Regions from separate parts of the Homo sapiens genome. Here regions 1 and 2 are each linked to region 3. A link means that fine-mapping ties the variant in region 3 to the plasma level of a protein whose gene starts in the linked region. Region 3 holds a variant in brackets. A gene starts in each other region. All regions are shown on their forward strands.

Region 1 (8,178 bases), not on the chromosome of region 3:
GGAGACCCTGTTCTCCCCAGGGTGCCTCCTGCAGGAGGGTTCACAGACCAGGGCAGGAGTGTACCTGGCAGGGAAGGGCATTACTCTCTGCAAAGGAGAAGTACATCCACAGCCTCCCATGCACAACATAAGCCTCCTCCCCACCACCCAACACCCACCAAATATTTCAAGGCTCATCAAAGAGACCAGGATCACAAACCCAAATCCCTATTTGGGTTAGGCCCATAACATAAGCAAGTAAAGAAGCAGGGTATGAGGCAGTAGGAAGAAATGGAGACCGTGACAAACTTGAGAGCAATGCTCCATCTGAAATTTGCAGCTGATGCTCAGCTCTAGCCGATTGTGGCCATGTTGGGATGTGTGCTCAGTGTTGCCAGAGCCTTCCCTTTTTTTTTCAAGATAAATCTTCATTTTTATGTGAAATTTTCCAACCTTGTAACACTTTAAGCACACCAAAGAAAGAGGTCTGTGAACTGGGTGTAGCCCACAGGCCCCCTTCACCTGTCATGTCATGCTGCCCCAGGGATGTCCCCTGCCCCTGACCCTCCGCTGGCTCTTATTCCATCCCTGTTATGTTATTTGCTTCTTTGCTCTTGTCTCCCCTTCTGGTCTTCTCTGCACGCTCTTTCCCCCTGTGTCACATCTTTCTGTTCTTTCCCGTCTTTGGAGTACATTCAGATGAATTTATGCTCAGGGTGGGGAATGAGGCGGGTGCGGGTGAGAATTGGGCTCTGGCATAGCATTCTATTATGTAACCACAGACCACATCCCCCACTGCAGCCAAATGGTTTGCAGAAGCAAGCTTTTGGTCGCAAGGGACATAAGACAAGACATTTTGAAGGAACAGTGGAAACCCACTATCCACTCTGGGCTTTAAGGGTGATAACAGAGTCTTTGTTCGATTTGAGGTTCCTGAGGTTTGGATTTCACGAACGCTGGGTTCAGAGGTCATACTGTGGGTTACAGAGAATGTCAAGATCAGAGTCAGAGTTACCATCAGCATCAGAATTTGTATCAGTGAGGAAACTGAAACCTAATTTGGACCAGGGTTGGGGTTAGTTAGGTTAAGAACTACAGTTAGGATTTGGGCTTGAGTTAAATTAGTTGATAAATTAACAATTTTGTATTGATATTTGGGTAAGGAATAGGAATAGACTTAAGATGACATTCGGGGTTGAGGAATGTGTCAGGATGAGAAAAAGATGAATAATCCCTGTTTTGTTTGGGGGCTTGGTTCTGGTTATGATTCAATACAGGTGTAGTATCTTAATTTAAGCCTGGAGTGGGTTAGAGCTTAAATATTAGAGGTTGGGTTTGGTTACCAGTCCCTAGTATTGGATTCTGGGATTAAGGTTGATACTTTGTCTAATGAGGGACAGCATAGCAGAGAGGTCAAGAACCTAGACTCTGGCGCCAAACTGCTTGAGGCTGGAATTCTGGTTCTACTGCTTTCTAGCTATGTGATCTTGGGCAAGTTATTTGAACTTCTGTGCGTTGGTTTTCGTATCTGTAAAAGTGGGATGATAATGGAGCCTATCTCATAGAATATTTGTAAGAATTAAATGAGTTAATATATGTAAAGCACTTAGGACAGCAAGTGACACATAGTAGTACCATAGAAGTATTTGTTAGGTGAATAAACGGTGGCAATATTTCATGCCCATCTTCCAAGTGACAAGTGTTCAGACTGGCTGGAGCAGTCTTCCCTGTGTTGTGGCCCCGTCGACACACTTAATCTAGCTGACACTCTCCCAGGGTTTCAACAGGGCCATCCCTTGGGCTGGGTTGTCAGCACATCTGTGTTGCTGGTTTCCTGGCTGACTTCATCACTACAGGTCTGTATTCTTTACATCAGAGAGGCATTGGGTCAAGGTTAACCCGGGTCCTCAGACAACTTCACATTGTCAGGCCTCCAAGGTGGGCAGGAAGGCAGGTTTCCAGTCCCTAAAAGAGACCAGGCCCAAGGCCACTTGTTCCTTCAAGCCGGCAGGAACTCCTCTTGAATGTTAAATGATGCTCCCTTGGAGCCTGAATGCAAAGACCTTAAGGAGAAATTTTCAGCCCATCAGCTCCCTGCTCAGTCAGCCTGGCAGTACACCCAGAATCCAAAGGGAGAGAATTCAGGCAAATCAGGGCAATGTTTTTAATGGGCCAAATCAGCAGAGTCCAGGGAAAGAATTCACTTCATTCCAGCAGCTGGCACCAGTTGAGAAGGGTTGCAAGCGAGCAGTCAGCTGGACGTGCAGGAGAGCACCCCCGCCGGCCCAAGCTGAGTGGGCTTTTTCATCTCTGCTCAAGAACTTTGTCTCCAGCAAGAGCCCCATGCCAGCACTTTCTCACATTTCTCTGTGCACTTAGTCTGCTTCAAGGTGACCTTGGGATTTGACAGTGGAGTGCAGGGGTGGGAGGAACTTTTCCTCATAGGCACTTTGCTGTGACATTCTGGGGACACTCTGATGAGTAACTAGTCACCCTAACAACTCACTCCAGCATCCCCACACTGCACCATTAACACCAACACTCTGAGTAAGCCTTGCTCCCCAAGCCAGGTGCCTGAATCACTGCTGTAGTAACCTGTGCCTCTTGTTCCTCTGCCTCACCTCTCTGACTCTCTGCCTTTCTTCATCTGAGCCTTTCCTCTCTCGGGTTCAGATTCTCCCTCCATTCCCCCAAGAAATGCTCAATTTCTCTGCACTTTCTAAGACTTCAATATGCCAGAACAGCCACTCCCTATCCATACTGGCCATCAAGGAAGCTTGGTCCCAAGCCTGGGTGGACACAGTGTCCCTGTACACTGGTGCTCAGCCCCTCTGATGACTGGGACATCCTACACATCTGTACCGTTAGAAGGCCCCAGATGCTGTTTCCATGGAGACCTAGTCAACCAAGAAGCCTCACCCCTTGGACTAGCTTCCTGCCTCCATTCACAACCAAAAAAATCAACCAAGGTTCTCCACAGACATCCAGCTCATAAAGGAGGACCTGAGGCTGTCAGTGATTCCCCATGTGATTCATATTCTTGCCTCTCAGTTCTGAGATGTTGGGATAGTATCAACAAGTGCAGAGCCTCTTCCCTGCCACCTTAGGAAGCCTCATACACTTGACCTCACTTCCCCATCGATCCCACAGCCAAAGCAGATACTGCCCTCCGACCTAGCAGCAAGAGCTCCACCTGCACTTCTAAAGCCACTGCTACCTCTGCCCCCCAGGGACCAAATATCCAGAGTTGCTCTCCTTCCCTAAGGCTGGAATATGCCAAGCCCGCTGGCCACCCCTACACATTAAGCCCCCAAGTTCCACCTTCCTCCCAACCAACAGGGCTGAGGCTGGTGGCTCCCAGGCCCACCCTCATGCTCTCCCACTGCCTCTCCACCCACTAGGGCCCAGGCAGAGCTGGTTTCTGGTAAGATGCACTATCTCATCCATGGTTGGGAGGCACAACTTCCTCTTCCAGGGGTTTTCCACTTAGAAATCCCATAAGGGTCTCCTTTCCACAACCCAGTTGGAAATGACCCCAAGCGGAAGTTTCTCCCAAGAAAATTTATAGTCATAATCATAGCGAATTTCCAGTTCACTGAGATCTCACTTTGCACCAGGTGCTTCTCATACATTATTTCATTTAATCCTTTCCACAGTCCTACACAGGAGCAACCCAGTGGAAGGATTCTTTCTCCTGTGGGCAGAGGAGGATTCTCCCCACACTCCTCAGCTCAGCCCCTCCCTTGGCACTCCTTCCCACCCACCCACTAGCTACCAATTAACCCATCAGCACCAGCATTTTGCACAGTTACTAAACAGGAACATGGTCCTGTTCCTCTGCCAGTCCCATCCCCTGGACCTCTCATAACTGTGGGCCAGGTCCCTTCTGTATTCTTCAATTCTCCTAACACTGCAACAGAGATCCATTCCTCTGACCCCTGTACAGCCCCAGATAGGACGAGGCCCACCTCCTGGTCAAAGGTCCTTTCAGTTTCCTCCTAAGCCTGCCCACCTCCTAAGGCTCTACCCAAAGTAACATCACACCCTAAACAACCTCACCTGTCACCAGGCAGTGGAAGGAGTGACCAAGGGCAGCCAGGCCACTCAGACCCCATGGACACCAGCCCTAGCTTTATTCCTTACAGTGGCCCCAGACAACAAAATCTTGGGGAGATCAAAAGTCAGGCTGGACTAAGGGATATTTGGGGCTGATCCTCCAAGGTGTCAAGAAGGGAATTCCATGAAATCAGACCATCAGCCCTGCAACTCTCTCCACATAGTCCAGTCCATTCCGGGACCAACGCCTGCACCCTCAGACAAGGACAACCCAAAAGTGCTCTGCGGCTTTAGGACAGAGCTCACCCTCCCTTGTCCCACGGCCCTGCCCTCTACCAAGTTCTCCAACTCTCTGCTTCTTTAGGCAAGATCCCGCCCCACCAGCAATCCCATGCCCGCCAGATAGTGACTTACCAGCCCAGGCCAGGCCACACAGCACGGCCAATACCAGGGAGATGCAGGCCCTCATGGTGCCCAGTTGGAGGCCAAAAAGGGAGTGGCTGTTGGACTTTCACTAGAGTCAGATGAATGTCACAGCTCTCAGACGAGCCTTATTCCTCAAGCTGATCCTTTTAAAGACACCAGGACTTGTGGAGCTGGTGTCTCCAGATCCTTTCAGGAAGAAAAAGGGGAGGGAGGGACCCTAGATGGATAGGAGGTGGGGCCCTACAGCTGTTTGAAGCCTGAGGGAAGGTGACTAAGAAGGTAGGTAATGCCAGATGTTGAGAACAGGTAATGCTAGCTGTTTGCAGCTTAAAAAATAGGTCATGCAGGCAGGCACACCAAGATGGGTCCAGTTTGGAGGGTTCTTTGTCCAAATTAGGGACACCCATGGGCTGATCTTTGGGTGATCCCCACCAAACAGACACCTACTTCCAAGTCTCAGACCTGACTTTCCAAGGGGCCACAGGTTGGATTCATCTTCAAATTCCTGGAGCTTAGCATGACACTGGCACACAGTAAGGTGATTGGTCCAAATTTGACAAACAGTAAGTGCCCAAGCAAGGGTTGGGGTCATTGGACAGAGAGATAGAGGATGTGTCGGTCAGAACCAGTGCTATTCTTATGACCACCAAGCCCAGCATAGCTAAATCAGCCACATGTCGAGCGCATGGCTAAATCACTCTAAAATATTATGCAAATGACTCTTACTGAGTCAGCCTCTGGGGTTTAAACGTTTCAGATTCCTTATGAGGCAGGGGAGGGGCAAGAGGCCTCTTAAAGGCAGCCGAAGGCCCACTCTTCTTCCCCTGGGAGCCCAGGGTTTCACTCCCTTCACCCCAACTTACACTCCTCTCCTCAGGAACTCCTCCCCAGTGAGGTTCTTTTGTTTCCAAGTCCAAAAGAAGGGGAGCAGCTCCCCGTGACTGTCCAGTTTTCCCCGATAATAAAGGTAAAATCTGCCAAGTATGATGCCCTTGCCAGAAAGAGCACTGCATGGGGATTCTCAACCCTCTCAGGAAAGAAAACTATCATATAAAAAGGCAAAATTGGTGAACAGTGGAGGCCACTCTATCAGTGATTTTTTTCTGGAGGTTGGGAGTGGAGCACGTCTTCATCCAGTGTGCTTTAACAGGAGAAGTTTCTTCCTCTCGCTGGTCTTCAGCTTTCTCATCTGAAATGATGGGGTTGGATCTGACAATCCCTTCCAGGTTCTCAGACTTTAATCTCGAGTTTTCCTGCCCATGCGCCAGGTTGAACAGTTGCTGGTGGGTTAAAGAGAATCCCCCAGCCTGTTGCTGTGTAGAGAGGAGTCCAAACATAGGGACTCAGGGGTAGAGAGAAGGACAAGCCTAGGGCAAGCAAACTTTGCAAGGGGCTCACACAGGAAGTGCAATGTATGTATATATTTTGAGATGGAATCTCTCTCTCTGTCGCCCAGGCTGGAGTGCAGCAGTGTGATCTCGGCTCACTGCAACCTCCATCTCCCCAGCTCAAGCAATTCTCATGCCTCAGCCTCCCGAGTAGCTGGGATTATAGGCATGCACCACCACACCTGGCTAATTTTTGTATTTTTAGTAGAGACCATGTTGGCCAACCTGATCTCAAACTCTTGACCTCAGGTGATCTGCCCACCTTGGCCTCCCAAAGTGCTGGGATTACAGGTGTGAGCCACTGCATCCAGCCCGGAAGCACAACTAAAGAGTGAGCCTAGCCCTTCTCTCCCAGAAGGGAGCTGGTTAGAATGAGTAAGAGCAGAAATGGCTGCTTCATTTGCATAGATTTCATTTACACAATCCAAAAGCAGGCTGAAGAGTCACTGCCCCTCAGAATCCTCATCCTCCCTGGGTTGGCACCACATAAACGTGTCTCTGACTCCTGTTGTTTAGGGGACAAAGGAGGGTGTCACTGGCTGGCCTGGGAAGCAATGATGCCTCAGAATTTGGGAATGAATGGTCTGTCCCTTCCAAGTGTCCAGCTGGGTGGACCCTAGCTGAAGCCAAAGCTGTCAGAGTGGAGTACAGCCTGGCTAGGTTCTCCTAGTGTCCAGCTGAACTGGCCATGGGATGGTGTTTTGAGGGCAGGAGCTCTCCCCCCATTAATGGAATTTTAGGTCAGGAGCAAGGATTGGAGCTGGGGAAGACAGTTAAGGATGACTCCATAGAGCCAGATGGTTCATCTGAGTACCCAAGTGTTTAAAACTGCATCCTTCAATAAGAATAACAGCCTTAACAACCACCAGCAACATTGACTGAGCACTTACCACGTGTGTTATCATATGTGTTATCTCATTGATTCTCACTACAACCTTAATAGGTACTATTGCTGTCCTCATTTTACAGATGAAGAAACTGAGGCACAGAAAGGTTAGGAGACGTGCCCAGAAGCACACAATCATTAAGTTATGCAGCTGTGCCTCAACCCAGATCCATCTGACCAGGGGTCATTCTCATAAGCACCGTTGCTCCATTGCCCCACAACATCACACTTTGAACGACCACTTAATCATGTCTGGTTACTATACAAAGCAGTCTAGATTTAAATTCACTGGAATTAAAGGGACCTCAACTGCCATCTAGTTCCACTTCTCATAGGATGTCACAACTCCCTAAACAACCCTAAGTGCTTGTCCTGCCTCTCCTTCATTGCCTCTGGTGCTGAGGGTTGAGGGGTGGGGAATTGGGATATGCCCTCCCACGGCTGCTCATACGCCCTCTTCGCAGATCGGATTCCCAAACCCCAGATTTTATAACCGAAGACATGCTGACAAAGGCAGAAAAAATCCATTAAGCCAATAAATGAAAATATATCAATACATATTCATGCAAAGATGCCTCATAAACTTAGATGTCCATGTATGTGTGTATACACACACACACACACACACACACACACACACAAAAAGAGAGAGAGAGAGAGAGAGAGAGAGAGAGAGATACATTAAGATAGATTTCAGGCAGCTTTCTCTTCCCTGCTAGCCTGTTGTGGACCAAGAACTCTGCGGCTCCTCTTTCTGAGTACCCCCCGCCATTAGGTACTCACATGGGCTTTCCATCCTTGCAGACTTCCCAAGAAGCCACAGTGGGACCAGCCAGCAAGTTGGGAATTGTGGTAGGCTGGGTCCTGGAGAGCTGGGGTAGGGAGAGAGTGGAGGGAGATGCATGGTGGATGGTGTCTCAATGATGAGAATAGCGACAGAGATGGTGCAGTTGTGTCCTCTGTGGAGGTCTGGAGAGTGGGGAAGAGGGTGAGGCTGCTTGGGCAAGGATTTGGGAGGCACTCAGCTGTGAGAGACATAGAGGGTGGGAATTCCATCAGCCAAATATTTATCGAGTGCTCACTACACATCAGGGGCTATGCTGTTATTGGACTGGCAGGGTTCAGGCTAGGCTGGAAAACTCTTCCTGGAACTGATTGGTTTCTGGTGGGACAGAAGCCAGATAAGCCTCAGCATTAGGGCATTGTTTGAAGTAGGCCTCATTCATCTCTGGGCTACCACAGGTGTCTGGGGTCTGTCAGGATCAACAGGCCTTGAGAGAGACTGACCCAGAGGACTACTAAAAGGGACACCTGCCCAGGCCAGCCTATTCTACCATCCTCGTTCTCCTGCAAAACCAAGGCCACGTCATTTCAGCAGAGGACCTGCGTGTGGAAGGACCCTGCAGCTGGCCCATCACAGGAGAGGCCCAGACTCACCTCCCA
Region 2 (8,178 bases), not on the chromosome of region 3:
CCACATCTGCAGTGACGACTTCCTCAACTGAAGTCTTGAACCCCTCAAAGTCATTCATGAGGGTTGAAATCAACTTCTTCCATACTCCTATTCATGTTGATATTTTGACCTACTCCCATGAATCATGAATGTTCTTAATAGCAGTTAGACTGTGAGCCCTTTCCAGAAGGTTTTCAGTTTACTTTGCCCAGATCCATCAGAAGAATCACCATCTGTGGCAGCTATGAGATGTATTTCTTAAATAATGTATAGCCTTATGAGATGTATTTCTTAAATAATAAAACTTGAAAGTTAAAACTACTCCTTGATTTGCAGAATAGATGTTGTGTTAGCAGGCATGAAAATATTAATTGTCTTGTACATCTCTGTCAGAGCTCTTGGGCTATCAAATGCATTGTCAATAAGTAGAAATATTACAAAAGGAAAGTAGAAATTGTTTTTTTTTGTGAGCAGTAGGTCTTAACGGTGGGCTTAAAATATTCAGTAAACTATGCCGTAAATGGATGTGCTGTCATCCAGGCTGTGTTGTTCCACTTATAGAGCACAGGCAGAATAGATTTAGCATAATTCCTAAAGGCTCTAGGATTTTTGGAATAGTAAATGAGCATTGGCTTTAACTTAAAGTCACCAAATACACTAGTCCCTAATAAGAGAGTCAGCCTGTCCTTTGAAGCTTTGAAGCCAAGCATTGACTTCTCTCTAGCTATGAAATTCCTAAATGGCCTCTTCTTTCGATAAAAGACTGTTTCATCTACATTGAAAATCTGTTGTGTAGCGTAGCCACCTTCCTCAATTATCTTGTGTAGATCTTCTGGAGAACTTGCTGCAGCTTCTCCATCAGCACTTGCTGCTTTACTTTACACTTTTATGTTATGGAGATGGCTTCTTTCCTTAAATCTTGTGAACCGACCTCTGCTATCTTCAAACTTTTCTTACGCAGCTTCCTCACCTCTCAGCTTTCATAGAATTGAAAAAAGTTAGGGCCTTGCTCTGGATTAGGCTTTGGCTAAGGGGATGCTGTGGCTGTTTTGATTTTTTTATCCAAACCACTAACATTTTCTCCATATTAACAATAAGTCTGTTTCACTTACCATTTGTGTGTTTGCTGGAGTAGCTGTTTTAATTGCCTTCAATAACTTTTCCTTTGCATTCATAACTTGGCTAACTGGTAAAAGAGGCCTAGCTTTGGACCTTTCTTGGTTTTCAAACATGCCTTCCTCACTAAGGTTAATCATTTCTAGCTTTTTTTGATTTAAAGTGAGAGACATGACTCTTCTTTTCACTTAAACACTTAAAGGCCACTGTAAGATGATTAATTGGCCTCATTTCAGCATTGTTGTGTTCCAAGGGAGAGAAACAGAGAATGGCCGGTTGGGGGAGAAATCAGAACATATGTGACATTTATCGATCAAATTCACTGTCTTATGTGGGCACAGTTTATGGCACCCTGAGACAATTAGGAAAGTATCATCAAAGATCACTGATCACAGACCAACATAACAGATGTAATGATAATGAAAAAAATTGAAATATTGTGAATATTACCAAAATGTGACACAAAGACACATAGTGAGCACATGCTATAGGAAACATGCAGCCAATGTACTTGCTTGGTGCAGGGTTGCCACAAACCTTCAATTTGTAAAAAATGCAATGACTGCAAAGCACAATAAAACAAGGTATGCTTGTATTGTGGCTGTAATTGTTGTAGCTCCATAATATGTTTTAGTGACTGGTGGTATCCATTACCCTTCATTAGTCTACATTTTCAATTTTCCAGGTTACAAGTATTTTATTGTTCCATGTGAACCTAATGATCATTTTGTTAAGTTGCAAAAACAAACCCTTGTTTTTATCATAAAATGTTTTCAAAAATGCACAAAAGAACAGCAAATACTTTTATGGAGCCTACATACCCATCATCCAGATTCAACAATGAACCATTTTACAAGAATTCCTTCATGCATATCCCCACCCCTTTTTTGGCTGAAGTATTTTAAAGTAAATCCAACCGATCTTATACTTTACCTTTAAATACTTCAGTGTGCATCTCTAAAAACTAAGGACACTTTCTCACATAATGACAATCCTACTGTTACACCTAAGAAAATTAACTGCAGTTTCTTAACATCATCTAATATTCTATTTGCATCTTGTTTTTCTTATTGTCTCAAAAGTGACTCTATGGTTGTTGGTGCACATATTGCATTGGCTGTAATGTATCTGAAGTTTCTTTTAATCTAGAACAATCTCTCCAACTCTTTTTTATTCTCCTTTCCTCCCTCCTTCTTCTTCTTCATGCTATTGACTTGTTGAACAAAACAGACAAATTGTTCTTTAGAATGTCCCATGTTGCTTCCCTGTGATGTCTTTCATCTTCTTTGTCCTTCACATTTCCCATAGATGAATGCTAGCTGTAGAGGCTTGGTGAGGTTCATGCTCAACTGTCTTGGCAGGAGCCCTTCTTGAATGATGCTGTGTGTTTTGTGTTGCATCACCTCAGGAGGAACGGAGGTCCGCTTTACCCATTTTTAGCATTGTGGAGACAGATTAATGTGTTTTCGGTGTGTACCTGAATCCTCAAGTTGTAAACTTGTGTTTTCCCTCTTACAAACTGTAAATATACCACAGGGTGATGAAATGGCACCCTGTAAATATTCAGAAGCCATGGATAATCATTGCCAGAATCAATTATTTCATTAGGGTTTGCAAAACCCAGTGGGTTTTAATTTTAATTATATTTCAGGTATAAATTATGCTGACCAAGGTGAACACTTTGAGGAGGCTTCCTGCTTGGGGAAGAGCATATCTTTTAAAAAACATTTATTTATTTATTCTGTAGAAAAGTTTAGTCTATTTATCCAGATCTTTTAAAATGTCATTTAATAAAGTTTTAGGGTTTCCTTTCAGAAAATTTCTGTACATCTCTAGATTTATTTGTAGGTATTTTATATTTTATTCACTTTGATAATGTTGAATAGGATTTTTTTTTTTTACTATTAGGTTGTCTTAGCAGGTTTGGGCTGCTATAACAAATTACCATAGACTGGGTGGATTATAAACAGCAAATATTTATTTCTTACAGTTCTAGAGGCTGGGAAGTCCAAGATCAAGGCACCAGCAGATTCAGCATCTGGTGAGGACCAGTTTCTCTTCTCTGACAGTGCCTTCTAGCTGTGATCACACATTGCAGAAGGGCAAGGCAGCTCTTTGGGGTCTCTTATAAGGGCACTGGTTTCATTCATGAGGGGTCCATTCATGAGCATTAGGGAGGAGCACCAGGTAGAGAGGGAAAGTACCGTCCCTGGGGTCTGGACTTTTTGTGACTCTTCCCTCTTTTTGGGGAAAAGGACTTCAAGCTCAGGTTTTCTTTGGTGGGGTTGGGTATTGCTTCTTCCATATTCCAAGTCTCAGGACCCTCAGGGGCAGGTGCCAAGTGAGAGTGACCCCCAGAGGTAGAAAGGACCCAGCATCATTTCTGAGGACACCTGGTAGAGGAGGAGCCTGGACACTTGGCCTCCCATCCTGGCTCAGGGTATGGCCTTGACACATCTTCATCCTTGTTTCCTCCTTTGGACAATGGAGATGTTCAGACTAGGTGGTCTCTGAGGGCCCTGCCAGCTTTAGCCATCCCTCCCCACACCAGCTAAAGGGACTAATTCCTCCGAACTTTCATGGGTCAGATAGAGGCAGGGAAGGGACAGCCCCAGCCCTGGGAGGCAGGTCTCCTTACCTTCTTCCAGTTCCTTCACAGGAATCACACACTTGAAGCCACAGTGCAGGTAACAACACTTCCTTTCCCCCAGACAGTCCTGGTCTGTGTGACACTGGGGAGGATCGGACTTGAAGCAGCGTACGTTGTCAGCTGGGCAAACCCCTGCTTTCTCTATACCTAGTGGAGGAAGCCACAAGGTGATATGAGAACTCCAGCCCCAGAGGGCCCCTCAGGACCTCTCCCCAGCCCAGCCCCACCCAGCTCCACCATGTCTGCTCACCCTCTTTAACTCCTTCCACAGCCACCAGGGTCACAAGAACGAGAGACACCATGAGGACCAAGAAGCTGCTGGACCCCATGTTGCCAGGCAGGTGCTTGGCTGGGAGCTGGGCTGAGCCTGGCTTTATAGTGTTCCTGCTGGGCATGCCAGTGGGTGGAGCTGAAGGCTCAAAATGGCAAGGGAGGCTGCACTTCCCAGCTCTATTTGGAAATGGCCCCTTCTGAGGAGGGACTTGGGGCTTTCCCTAAGGCTCTGCACTGGAATAGATGAAGAAATCCAAGAGCGACCCTCGTTCTTCACACGAGGAGAAGAAATGGACACGTGATTGACCATTAGGCGCCACCAGGGCCAAACTATCTTATGGAAGGAGGAAAAGAAGCACAGAAAGGGCATGAAATTACTCAAGTTCACACACGAGGCAGTGGCAGGGCCAGACTTCCTCAACTCCACCGTGTTCTCTATCAGTCCCTCTTCATGCCTGATTCACCTGGGACCAAAATCTTCCCTCCTTCCTGTGCTGCCCCGGACTTGTTCTCAGTTCTCACCTCACCCCAAGGAAGAATCTGAATGGCAGTGCTTAAAATGTCTGTCCTGAACATTCACTCTCAGCCTTGCGCTCCAGCACCGTGTGCTCCTGCCCCCCGCCAATCTCATGTGGCCTGGAGGAAAGCAGATTTTGGACCTGTCACCAGCTGTGTGACTTTGAAAGCAGCTTCACCTTTCTAAGCCTCCGTTTCCTCATTCATACAATGAGCATAATAATTATACTGTATCATCTTCATAGGATTTGTTTTCCCTCCTCTGCCCCTGCATCCCCCAAATTCCTGGATTTGGAAGAAGACATGGACGTGTGTGCGTGTGTGTGTGTGTGTGTGTGTGTGTGTGTGTGTGACCAGGCTTTTGGGGTCCTTTCTTTGAATGAGTACTAAAGGGAGGAAAATCCTTCCTGTTGGAAAAGTTGCAGATATAAGCCCAGAAACTCCAGAAATTTGGTCCTGGCCCTGGTGAGAGAGAAATTCTGAGAAGATAAATCTAAGATGCTGATAAAAAGAGATGAGAGATGGACAGGGAGTAATTTAGAGGATATCTAGTCCTTCACTAAACTTTTTCCTGAGATCAGCCCCACTCATACCCAGGGTTATGTTACCACCCAATACATTCACCTTTCTGCCTAAGCTGGTCTGAATTGGATTTCTGTCATTTACTAACAGGACCCCTGAGTAATGCAAAGATTTGGGTTTGGGGTGTTCCACATCCTGAAGTGTGGAAGGGACTGAGTTGGGGTTAAGTGGAGGCAGGGAGGATACCTCCATTCCTGGAAGTGAGCCTACTCCTTATTAGGTGGTGAATCTTTGGTTACAATCTCACCAGTCATATCACTGGACTCAGATCATTTGGATACCAGGGATGGAATCTGGGAAGTTCATAAACAAATACTAGAATGTTGGAATGTATTGGCTATTTCCTCCTCCACCTTTTTATTATGAACTTTTTAAACATACAGAAAAATTGAAATAACAGAACAATGATACTTGTATACCTACAACTGGATTTAACAATTATTAATAGTTTGGGATATTTTAGAATACCTATAGCTACATTTGTTGAAATATTTGAAATGAAATTGAATACATTATGTTCCTATTTCCTAAATACATCAGCATGCAAATTCTAAGAATAAGGATATTCTTCAATATAATCACAAAGCCATTATCATATCTAAGATAATTAATAGTTTCTGCATGTCATCTCATAGCCAGTTCATATTTGTTTCTCCGGTTCTCCCCAAAATGTCATTTGTAATTGACTGTTGATGATACTTCTTTAAAAAAAGTATTGTAAAATAAATCCTACATATGAAAGAATGTAATCAACATTCTATACCTTTTGAAAAAGAATAATAAACACCTATGAACCTATCAATTTAGAATAGGACATTACCATCCCTACTTCAGAGGTAACCACTATCTTGAACTTTCTGTTAATCATCCTCATGTTTTCCTTTAAAGTTTTGCTCTCTTGCTATGGCTTGCTTAGTGATACGTGTTGTTTAATTTCGTGTAAGCGTAATTATGGCCTAAGTATTCTTTTGTATTTTGCATGCTTTGCTCAACACCGTGTTTTTTTAAAAAATTGTGGTAAGAAATATATACTATAAGACATGACCTCTTAACATATTTTTAAGTGCATACTAACAGTATTGTTAATTGTGGGCACAGTGTCATACAGTAGGTCTCTAGAACTTTTTCATCTTGCATGACTGAAACCCACTGAATAGCAACTCCCTATTCCCCCCACCCCCAGACCCTTGGAACCACCATTCTGTTTTCTGCTTCTATAAGTGACTACTTTAGACACTTCATAAAAGTGGAATTATGCCATATTTGTCCTTTTGTGACTGGCTTATTTTGCTTAGCATAATGTCCTTGAGGTTCACCCATGTTGTAGCATGAGATAGACTTTTCTTCTTTTTTATGGCTGAATAATATTCCATGGTATGCATATATATGTACATGTATATAATCTTTTTCCTTCCCTCATTTATCTGTCAATGGGTCAATGCACATTTAGGTTTCCATTTCTTGGCTATTGTGAATATTGCAGCAATGAACTTGCAGGTGCAAATATCTCTTTGGGATCCTGATTTAAATTCTTTTGGATAAATACCCAGAAGGGGGATTGCTGGATCATGTGATAGCTCTATTTTTAATTTTTTGAAGAACTTCCATACTGTTTTCCGTAGTGGCTATACTCCTTTAAATTCTCACTGACAGTGCACAAGGGTTCCAAATTCTCCACATTCTCACCGGTACTTGTTTTCTTTTTCTTTTCTTTTTAAAATAAAAGCCATCCTAACAGGTATGAGGTGATCTTATGGTTTGATTTTCATTTTCCTGATGATTAGACATGTTGAGTATCTTTTCACATACCTGTTGGCCATTTGTATATCTTCTTTGGAGAAATGTCTGTTTAAGTCTTATTCACTTTTAATTGGGTCTTTATATTTATATGTGTGTGTATATATATATATATATGCATATGTACACACACATATATATAATGAAAAAGAAAAGAAATAAGTATTAGAATGGGAGACGAGAAAAGCCATTGTTTGCAAATGATGCAATAATAAAAACACAAAAGAAACTACAGATACATCATGAGTTAGACAATTTTTCAAGATTAGCTGACACAAAAATCAATATATAAAAGTCAGCTGCTTTCTATACACTAGAAATATTGGTTAGAAAAATGTAATACGTTAAAAGCAATAACATGTAAAATATTTAGTAATAAAGGCAACCTGTGAGATGGGAAAAATATTTGCAAACTACCTACCAGATAAGGGGTTAATTTTCAAAATATATAAAGAACTGCAACTCAATAGCAAAAATATGTTTACATATATATATACATATATACATAGCAAAAATATGTTTATATATGTATATATATAAATACATTTAGGCTTACATTTAGGTTTCCTAGAAACCTAGACTGTCTAGGAAGCAAGCCCCATAAGGAACTTCTCATATTCATATTATAAGAAGGTAAAATTGCAGGGGACAATGTTCCTGTTTTGTAGTAGTAAACTACCTTCTCAAAAGGTGGTTATTTTGTCCCCAGGGGACTTTGGCAATGTCTGGAGACATATTTGATTGTCACAACTGGGACAGATGTGCTTCTCACATCCAGTGTCTAGAGGCTGAGGTTGCTGCTAAATATCTAACAATGCACAAGACAGCTTTTCACAACAAACAATGATCTGTCTCCAAGTGCCAATAGTATTGATGTTGAGAAACGCTGCTGTCCTGCCTCACTGACTAATAGCTGTGCATGGCCTCAGAACACCTCAATGTAGGCTGAAGCGAGTAATGATGGGAGTGTCTGCTGGGAGTATCCCATGCTTAGGAGTGCTGATCCTTGGCTCACTGGTTTCACCCAGTAAAGGCATTCCTTAGCCCATGCCATGTGACCTTGTGGAATTCATCCCATGTTCTGCTGAATCAGGTTAATAAAGTTCCCTTTTAATTCTAGTTAGCTAAGAGTTTTTCTCATGAAAGGATGTTGAATTTTTATCAAATGCCTTTTCTTCATCAATTGAAATAAATATATGGATTGTCTCTTCAATCTGTTATTTTGTGAATTACATTAACCAGATTTCACATTCATTGTCTTTTTT
Region 3 (8,178 bases):
CTCTGGCTCTGCGAGTACTGCCTCAAGTACATGAAATATGAGAAGAGCTACCGCTTCCACTTGGTGAGGCTGGGCCGGCCGGGCCGAGCTGGGCAGGGGCCCGGTGAGAGGCAGAGGCAGGCATGGAGACTGAGGGCGGCTGCGCCGGCAGCTCCAGGGAGGAGACAGGCCCAAAGGAGCGAGTACAGGGAAGAGCTGCTGGGGGTCAGGAGGCCTGGATTCCAGGCCTGGCTTTGCTGTTGCTGGCAGGGTGACCTTGCCAACTTCAGACCTCAGCTCCTCTTCTCTGGAATGGGGACAGTAACTCACCCCCTTCAGGTCTTTTGCCAAGGCCAGCTCCATCCCAGGAAGCACACATAGCCCCTGGCAGTGGGACCTTAAGTGTGGATGAAATTGGGGGCTGTCAGGAAGGGGCGCTCTCATCACTGACACAGTGGGCTGCTTCCCGAAGTGTGGAATCTGAAGCGAATAGGTGTGGTTTAGGGAAGCCATTGTCATGGACGGGTCCCTCCAGAGCCAGGCCCACAGAGACTCAAAACCCCACCGTGCTGTGTGATGTTTGGATCTCTGTGCCTGGGCCTTGGTCTGTAAAAGCAGGATCACTTTCCTAAGGCTGCTGGGAGGATTACTCGATGTAGGTGAAGTGTTGAGGGGGGAAACAGAGAGGCAGAGACTTGCTCCAAAGCATGCAGTGGTGGGTTGGGTGCCTCCTAGCAGAGAACATATGGGCAGCGAACCTGTTCTCTTGTCCCCGACCAGGGTCAGTGCCAGTGGCGGCAGCCCCCCGGGAAAGAGATCTACCGCAAGAGCAACATCTCCGTGTACGAAGTTGATGGCAAAGACCATAAGGTGAGTGGGTGGCCAGGGGTTGGGAGAGGCCGGGGAGGCCCTGGGCACCTCCCAGATGATCCTCATCACCACCAAAGGGGAGGGGGCAGCCTTAGCTGAGCCTCTATGGGCAGAATGCCTCTGAGGGGCCGGGCACTGCAGCTCACACCTGTAATCCTAGCACTTTTGGAGGCTGAGGTGGGCAGATTGCCTGAGCTCAGGAGTTTGAGAGCAGCCTGGGTAACATGACGAAACTCCTCGACTAAAAATACAAAAAATTAGCTGGCGTGGTGGTGCGCACCTGTAATCCCAGCTACTCGGGAGGCTGAGGCACAAGAATTGCTTGAACCTGGGAGGCAGAGGTTGCAGTGAGCTGAGATTGTGCCACTGTACTCCAGCCTGGTCGTCAGATTGAGAATCTGTCTCAAAAAAAAAAAAGAAGGCCTCTGAGGGCCTCCTAGCCTGGCACTAGGCCTGTAGTTGGTGCATAGGAAACACAGGGCCTTGTGGTGGCCCCAAGACTCTTCTGCTGGTGGGGTTAGGTTCAAACTTGGGTTGTTCTGGAACCCAGAGGAGATTTTCTTGCCTGAGGCTGCTTTTAGAAGTGCTCTCTCCTTCCGTTGGAAAGAAAGGTGTTTGTTTTTGCCTGGGAGGGGACTGCTTTGTGTGAAATTTCCTCCTGAGAGAGCTCTGTGGCTTTCAAGGTTTGAGTTCCTTGTTCCTGGCCCCGAATGACTTCAGCAGGGCAGGTTGGGGCCTTTGGGACCTGCCTAGCTGTTGTAGAGAACTTGGCCTTTGCCTTATCAGTCTGGGAGGGTCTGGCCAAGTGTACTGGTTTCCCGCAGATGGGCCATACAGCACAGGACAGAGAGGGCAGGCTTCAGGGTGGCTCATGTTGCCTTGTCACTTCCTCACTGACCACAGACAAGTTACTTAACATGGTTTGTTCCTGTTTCCTTGTCCATAAGACGGGAGTCATAATATTTAATATTTACCTAGTTGTGTTGTTAGTGGAATAAATGAGACAGCAAATGTCAAGTGTTTAGTGCAGTGCTTAGCACTAGTATGTGCTTAATAAACACGGGCCTTGTTATTATCGGTGACCTCTTGGGGCTTGATTAGCCTTGGACTCGGAGAATACGCAGGCTGAGCCCAGCCCTTGCCCCTGCTCTGCCTTCCTGAGCATGGCTGTGTGGAATAGCAGAAGGGCCCCCGCTGGAGATGTGGGGGTGCTTTCCAACTGCGCTCTGCCAGCTTTGAGGCTCTGGGCAAGCACTTCCACTCTGGGAGCTTCAGCTTCCTCCTGAGTAAGATGGGCCTGGCAGTGCTGGGCTCGCACAGCTGCCGGGTTGGATGAGAGAGTGGCTGTGGTGTCATAAACCAGGGAGCCCCTTAGTGTGTGCCGTGAAGCCAAACTCGGTCCCATTGTCCCCCTCCTGGAGTGCAGCCAAGTGGACAGACAGGGCTCGAGGTTCCTCCATTCAGCAGACGTTTACCAGGCACCCAGCTTCATACTTAGACTCGTGCTAGGCGCTGGGGACACAGCCATGAACAGGACGGTCTAAATTCCTGCCTCGGAGCCTCAGTTTCACGAGCTGAAACAGAGTTAATGTCTGTGAAGACTGAAGCAGATCCTGCATGGAAGGCACCCAGCTCGTATTTGGCACTCAGAAGGGGTGGCCGGGCTTCATCCAGCTCCACTGGCACCTCCGAAGTGCTGTTGCTCTCTCATTTCCAGTTCCCTGTTCGTCAGAGGCTGACCGAAGACTCCTTCCAGTGTGAAATCCTTCTGGCCTGGCGAGGCGCCCACTTCGCGTGGGCTGGTGCCGGCCGCTGGAACCAGCTGGGTGGGGCCTGTGCCTGCCCCCTGAGCCTGTCTCCCCCCTCCTCAACCCTAGATTTACTGTCAGAACCTGTGTCTGCTGGCCAAGCTTTTCCTGGACCATAAGACACTGTACTTTGACGTGGAGCCGTTCGTCTTTTACATCCTGACTGAGGTGGACCGGCAGGGGGCCCACATTGTTGGCTACTTCTCCAAGGTGCTGGGTCTGGAAACTCGGGGTGGGGAGGGTGGGGAGGGCGAAGGTGGGCATGAACAGAGAGTGGGGCAGAGCCTCCCCAGCGGCCCTGAGCACCTGCCTCCTGCAGGAGAAGGAGTCCCCGGATGGAAACAATGTGGCCTGCATCCTGACCTTGCCCCCCTACCAACGCCGCGGCTACGGGAAGTTCCTCATCGCTTTCAGTGAGTGGTTCCTGGCCTGTCTGGGAGGGGGAGACCTGTGGGGCAGGGGTGCCAGGGCAGGCTGGATCCTAAGTTCCTCTTTCTACTGCTGCCAGGTTATGAGCTCTCCAAGCTGGAGAGCACAGTCGGCTCCCCGGAGAAGCCACTGTCTGACCTGGGCAAGCTCAGCTACCGCAGCTACTGGTCCTGGGTGCTGCTAGAGATCCTGCGGGACTTCCGGGGCACACTGTCCATCAAGGACCTCAGGTGAGGGGGCCTCCCGGGCCCTGGGGGCAGGACTTGCCCTGAGATGGGCCACGATCCTGCTTCCTCATACCCTGTCACCATCCTGGCCAGATCCCACAAGGGCACCAGGTCTGGCATTTGCTCTCATCCCTTTTTGCAGCCAGATGACCAGTATCACCCAAAATGACATCATCAGTACCCTGCAATCCCTCAATATGGTCAAGTACTGGAAGGGCCAGCACGTGATCTGTGTCACACCCAAGCTGGTGGAGGAGCACCTCAAAAGTGCCCAGTATAAGAAACCACCCATCACAGGTGGGTGGGGGGCTGCTGTGTGTCGGGGGCGGTGGGGGAGTGTCAGTATATGGACTGGTAGGAGTCAAGGCCTCCTTATTGCTGTCACATGATCCCAAACCAGTCAGACCAGCTCCCAGGATGGAGCCCGGGGCAGGCCTCTCATTCCTGGGCTTCCCTACCCCTCCCCAGCACAGCCTGCCCTTTTGTTCTCACCTGGAGGAGGTGAAACTGGCCTGAGCCCAGAGGAGGGCAGCCAGGTGTGAGCTGGCCTGGCCCAGGCCCAGCCCTGCCTCCCGCCCCTTCTCCCCACAGTGGACTCCGTCTGCCTCAAGTGGGCACCCCCCAAGCACAAGCAAGTCAAGCTCTCCAAGAAGTGAGCAGCCTGGCCCCTGCTGTCGGACCTGAGCCTCCTGGCTCCCAGCCTGTAAATATGTATAGACCTGTTTTGTCATTTTTTTAATAAAGTCAGTTCTGGTGGCCCTGGACTTTGGAGGGGAAGGGGAGGCCAAGAGCGGATGTTCTTCATTTCACTTCACACATGCACGGCAAGTTGTGCTCAAACATTTTAATCATTTCTGCCCTGTTACTCCCACCCCAGATCCAAGCGCCAGCCCAGTTCCGGTGGGGGCT[C/T]AGTCCTCCGGAGTCCAGGAGTCAGGGCTCGGGGGCGCTCAGCGGCCAGTGGGCAAGATTGGGGCCTTTCCTGTCCTCGAAGCTGCACAAAGGTGGCCCCAGCCCAGAACACAGGGAGAGGGCAGAGAGATGTGCTCATCAGTCTGGGCAGGCGGGCCGGGAGCAGTCTTCCAGAAACAGGTGGGAGCCAGGGCTCATTTTCATAGCCAAGGGTCCCAGGAGCTCCCCAGGAGCTCGGCCAATGGGCTGGTCCATGGTGGGTGAGGGGCCAGAGGCTCTGGCCATTGCTACAGGCAGTAAAACTCCTGACTCTCAGTGATGGTCCCAAAAAGCACACCCAGAAGAATGGGCTCAAAGATCAAGATGGGGCCCCAGCCTCCCGCAGAGTCCTGAAGGAAGGAGTGGCTCAAGTCAGGCCCTGGGTCCAAAGGCCATCAGGGAAGGACCAGGCTCCTGTCCTTGAGTGTGATGCATCCATCCTGGAAGTAGGGCCAGCTCAGTGCTCGCTGAGCCATGGGGAGAGGAGGCCCAGAGCCAGGCCCAGAGGCAGGAAAAGGATGGGCCTCAGCAAGCCCTGGGCTGGGGCAGAGCTGAAGGCCAGGTGGCTGCCACAGAGGTTGCTGTCGGGCTGGGACTCCTGGGTTTGGGGCACCACACGAGGCTGGAGTTCTGTCACCTTGCTTTGGATCCAGGAGGCATAGCTGGAGGCCAGAGTGTACACACCAGGCCTGTTGCGGGCCCCACAGGCATCTCCCCAGCTCACAATGCCCGTCAGGTACCAGAGACCCTCCACAGGGCAGGAGAGTGGGCCCCCAGAGTCACCCTGAGGAGAGAAGCCACACAGCAGCCATCAGGACCGGGCCAGGCCTCCTTTCCGAAGTTGCACTGGTCATCTGCCCCCCGGGCCTGTGCTTACCTGGCAGGCGTCCTTGCCCCCCTCCACATAGCCAGCACACACCATGTCCTCTTGGACAAAGTGCGGCTCCTCAGGCTTGGCGTCGATGTTGTACAGGCAGTTACACGTCTCACGACTGATCAGAGGCACCTCGAGTTGCTGCAGTGGCTTGGGCGTCAGGAGGCTCACTGTGGGGGTAAAAGAGGCTTACCCTGGGCCCCTCCCCAAGTCAGGTGCCCCTCCACACCTCTAGGCACCCAGCGTCCCACCTCACCTGAGGGGGCCACATGACCCCAGCCAGTGACAGTGCAGTGGAGGCCGTTGGGGAAGGAGGCGTTGGCTGCAGGGAGGCAGATGGGCCGGATGTAGCGGGAGAAGGTGATGGGTCTGCTGAGTTGGAGGAGTGCAATGTCGCCCTGGGAGCCCTCCTGGAGGTAGCTGGGGTGGGGGATGATGTCCTTCAGGGTGCTGACCTTGGCGTCCTCGGAGTAGGAGTCTAGCTGGTGGGCCCCCAGCTTGACCTCATAGGCTTCCTTGTGGTGCTCGCTGCAGGCAGGGGGCAAAGGCTGAGACCCAGGAGACCTCTCCTTGTTCCCCAACCCCCACTGCCAACCCCTGATTCCGATCAGCCCCTTTTAGGTCTCAAATTGCACCTTAGTTTTATCATGTAACCTCTGACCCCTCACCTTCACTCCTAACTGGTCCTTCCAGACTTAGAACTGACACTCTCAGACCCAACCCAAGAACCCCAACCTCTGACCTGGATTGACCCATTAACTTTGACCTCCAGCCCACTTTTGACTTTCACCATTTGGTACCTGGGGAAGCAGTGAGCAGCTGACAGCACCCACTGCTCAGACACGAGAGAGCCACCACACACATGGACGCCTTCATAGGTGATGCTGACCTGCCAGGGCCACTGACCGGCGACTGCACTGCTGCCACCTGTGATGCGTGCTTGGGGGGCCACACCGCAGGGAGCTGCCCAGGGAGGAAGGGAAGGGGTCAGGTTGTTAGCCTGGCCACTCCTATGCAGCCCAGGAGCTCTGATATAGAGCTTGGGAAGTGGGTTCACAGGAGTCAACACCCCTTTGTCCCCTCCCAGGCATGGGCAGTTGTGCCCCTTCTGTCCACTACCCATTACCTAATTCAGGTCTCATGGCAGCTTCTCTCCTTGCAAGCCTTCCATCCATCCCGCCCCTTACAAGTCTGAAGATTTTCATAAACCCCCAATCTGACCAGGCCACAGCCCTGCTTAAACCCTTCTTGGCTCCACGCGGTCCTTAAGATACATTCCAGACAGACCATGGCACCGCCATCGGACCCAGCCGTCCCCTCTGGACCCTTCAGTTGTGTACATCAGGCCACACACTTGTTTACCCGGGACCTTGGCTGATCCAGGTCACTCTACCTGGTATGCCCTTCCCCATCCTTACTGTCTGGCAAACTTCCCTTTGCCTGTGGATGCTTGATTGGAACAGCAGCCCCTCCGTAGACAGGCGGGCTTCTGCTGGCTGAGTTGGGCATTGCCTCCGAGCCCAGCACCCCCCAACCTCCACCATGCTCCCCGATGCTGCCCAGTCTCACAATTGTTCCGGAGTCCACAACTGTGTCTGTTTCCACCACACCAATCTGGGCATTCCCTAGGGGCAGATTCTCATGTCTGCAGTGCCTGTGGCGTCGTGGACATATATTCAACAAACCAACAGCAGAACTGGGCTCCTGTGATGTGAATGTCTAGTTTCCAGGACAGCCCCAGCCCCACCCCCATTGAGGCCACTTTGGAGTGGAGCCCAACTGCTCTTCACAAAGTCATCTAGGAGCAGAGAAAATTGCAGACCAGATCTTTCTCTCCCTTATCATCATGACAATAGCCACTATTTAGAGAGCCTAGCGGCTGTGCCAGGCCCTGGAGGGGCTTTCGCTTCCTCATCTCCCTGCATCCTCTCCACAGCCCCAGGAGACGGACATGACCAGCTTCATTTTAGAGGTGAGGAGTCTAAGGCTTAGAGAAGTGGGGGGACTTGGCCAATGACACACAGCCAGTGCATGGGGAAGCCAGGATTGAAAGCCGGTCTGACTCAGAGCTGGGTTGGGTGCCTTCCAAGAAAGGAGACCCTTGGTTTGGTTCCCTCAAAACCACCTCCAGGATGGGAACGGTGGCTCACACCTGTAATCCCAGCACTTTGAGAGGCCAAGGCAGGAGGATCGCTTGAGCCCAGGAGTTCAAGACCTGCCCGGCCAACATAGTGAGACCCACATCTCTACCAAACAAAAACAAAAACAAAAACAAAACACAACTAGCTGGGTGTGATGGCATGCACCTGTAGTCCCAGCCACTAGGGAGGCTGAGGTGGGGAGGTGGGAGGATCACGTGAGCCCGGGAGGCTGGATCACTGAGACTGCAGTGAGCTGCGATCGGGCCACTGCACTCCAGCCTGGGTGACGACAGACCCAGACCCTGTTTCAAAAGACAAAAACCAAACCAAAAAAACCACCTCGATTGCCCCACTTTGGGAGTCAGACGTGGATCTGAATCCCAGCTGCACCTTCACTGGCAGTGTGCCCTGGGCAAGTCCCTGCTTCTCTGCCCATAAGGTGAGGGCTAAAACCCCCCACTCTGGGAGCCCTAAGAGAATCTAGTTGGAAGGCAGCCCAGCTGAAGGCCAGGCACTGGTTAAACCCCAGGGGAATCCGATCCAAGTCACCTCCCCCTCCCCTCCTCCCTCTCCGAGGAAAGTCTCACCTTCTGCCCCTTCCGCTCCTAGAAAGAAAGAGAAAGAGGAGGGGTGAGTAGGGAAGACTCGGGTTCCCTGACCCCTTAGTACCCACCACTGCTCCAGAGGGCTGGCCCCTTCCCTGACAGAGCCAAGGTGGGAAAGAGAGGCCAAGAGCTAGGGAGGCCGGGGGTTTTCTTGGGCCCCAGACAAGGGCACACCCCAGAAAATGATCACGCCGGCTCCCTCCAGTGCATTGTCCCCACCCTGCCCCCACGTCCTCACTTACCTGTCCCCGACCGGAGTAATCCAAGATAGAGCAGAATGGCCACAGCCCCCAGCTG

Alleles and levels. Positions count from the first base shown, and alleles are read on the strand shown. Strength reflects both the effect of a copy and how common the allele is.
As copies of T replace C in region 3, the plasma level of the protein whose gene starts at base 4,581 in region 1 goes down (weak association).
With allele C in place of T in region 3, the plasma level of the protein whose gene starts at base 4,092 in region 2 is higher (weak association).

Evidence for each region. PIP is the chance, under the fine-mapping model, that this variant and not a neighbour inherited with it causes the effect. Protein levels are from antibody-based Olink assays in UK Biobank. Linkage for the fine-mapping came from a reference panel and not from the study's own genotypes, which makes the PIPs less certain.
Region 1: it holds the start of ENDOU, and the variant in region 3 is fine-mapped to the plasma level of the ENDOU protein (UK Biobank, PIP above 0.99).
Region 2: WFDC12 starts here. The variant in region 3 is fine-mapped to the plasma level of the WFDC12 protein (UK Biobank, PIP above 0.99).

What each region holds. Positions count from the first base shown.
Region 1 is chr12:47,720,910-47,729,087 of GRCh38, forward strand. It overlaps ENDOU (endonuclease, poly(U) specific), which reads right to left and starts at 4,581. Exons shown (of 10, transcript NM_001172439.2): 1 at 4,450-4,581. The coding sequence starts at 4,504. It overlaps RPAP3-DT (RPAP3 divergent transcript), which reads left to right. Exons shown (of 4, transcript NR_183480.1): 4 at 7,978-8,178. RefSeq lists silencers at 5,096-5,215, 6,181-6,240.
Region 2 is chr20:45,120,374-45,128,551 of GRCh38, forward strand. It overlaps WFDC12 (WAP four-disulfide core domain 12), which reads right to left and starts at 4,092. Exons shown (of 3, transcript NM_080869.2): 1 at 3,996-4,092; 2 at 3,734-3,892; 3 at 3,052-3,570. The coding sequence starts at 4,074. The coding sequence ends at 3,473.
Region 3 is chr16:31,127,291-31,135,468 of GRCh38, forward strand. It overlaps KAT8 (lysine acetyltransferase 8), which reads left to right. Exons shown (of 11, transcript NM_032188.3): 5 at 1-63; 6 at 760-849; 7 at 2,727-2,867; 8 at 2,977-3,070; 9 at 3,166-3,316; 10 at 3,456-3,610; 11 at 3,905-4,069. The coding sequence ends at 3,969. PRSS8 (serine protease 8) reads right to left here. Exons shown (of 6, transcript NM_002773.5): 1 at 8,124-8,178; 2 at 7,864-7,881; 3 at 5,936-6,098; 4 at 5,392-5,663; 5 at 5,139-5,305; 6 at 4,143-5,045. The coding sequence ends at 4,719. Among named protein-coding and RNA genes, the nearest start is that of PRSS8, 4.3 kb to the right of the region's middle. RefSeq lists enhancers at 1,814-2,761, 2,762-3,709, 4,658-5,603, 6,552-7,498. The variant C/T (reference allele first, on the strand shown) is at 4,223.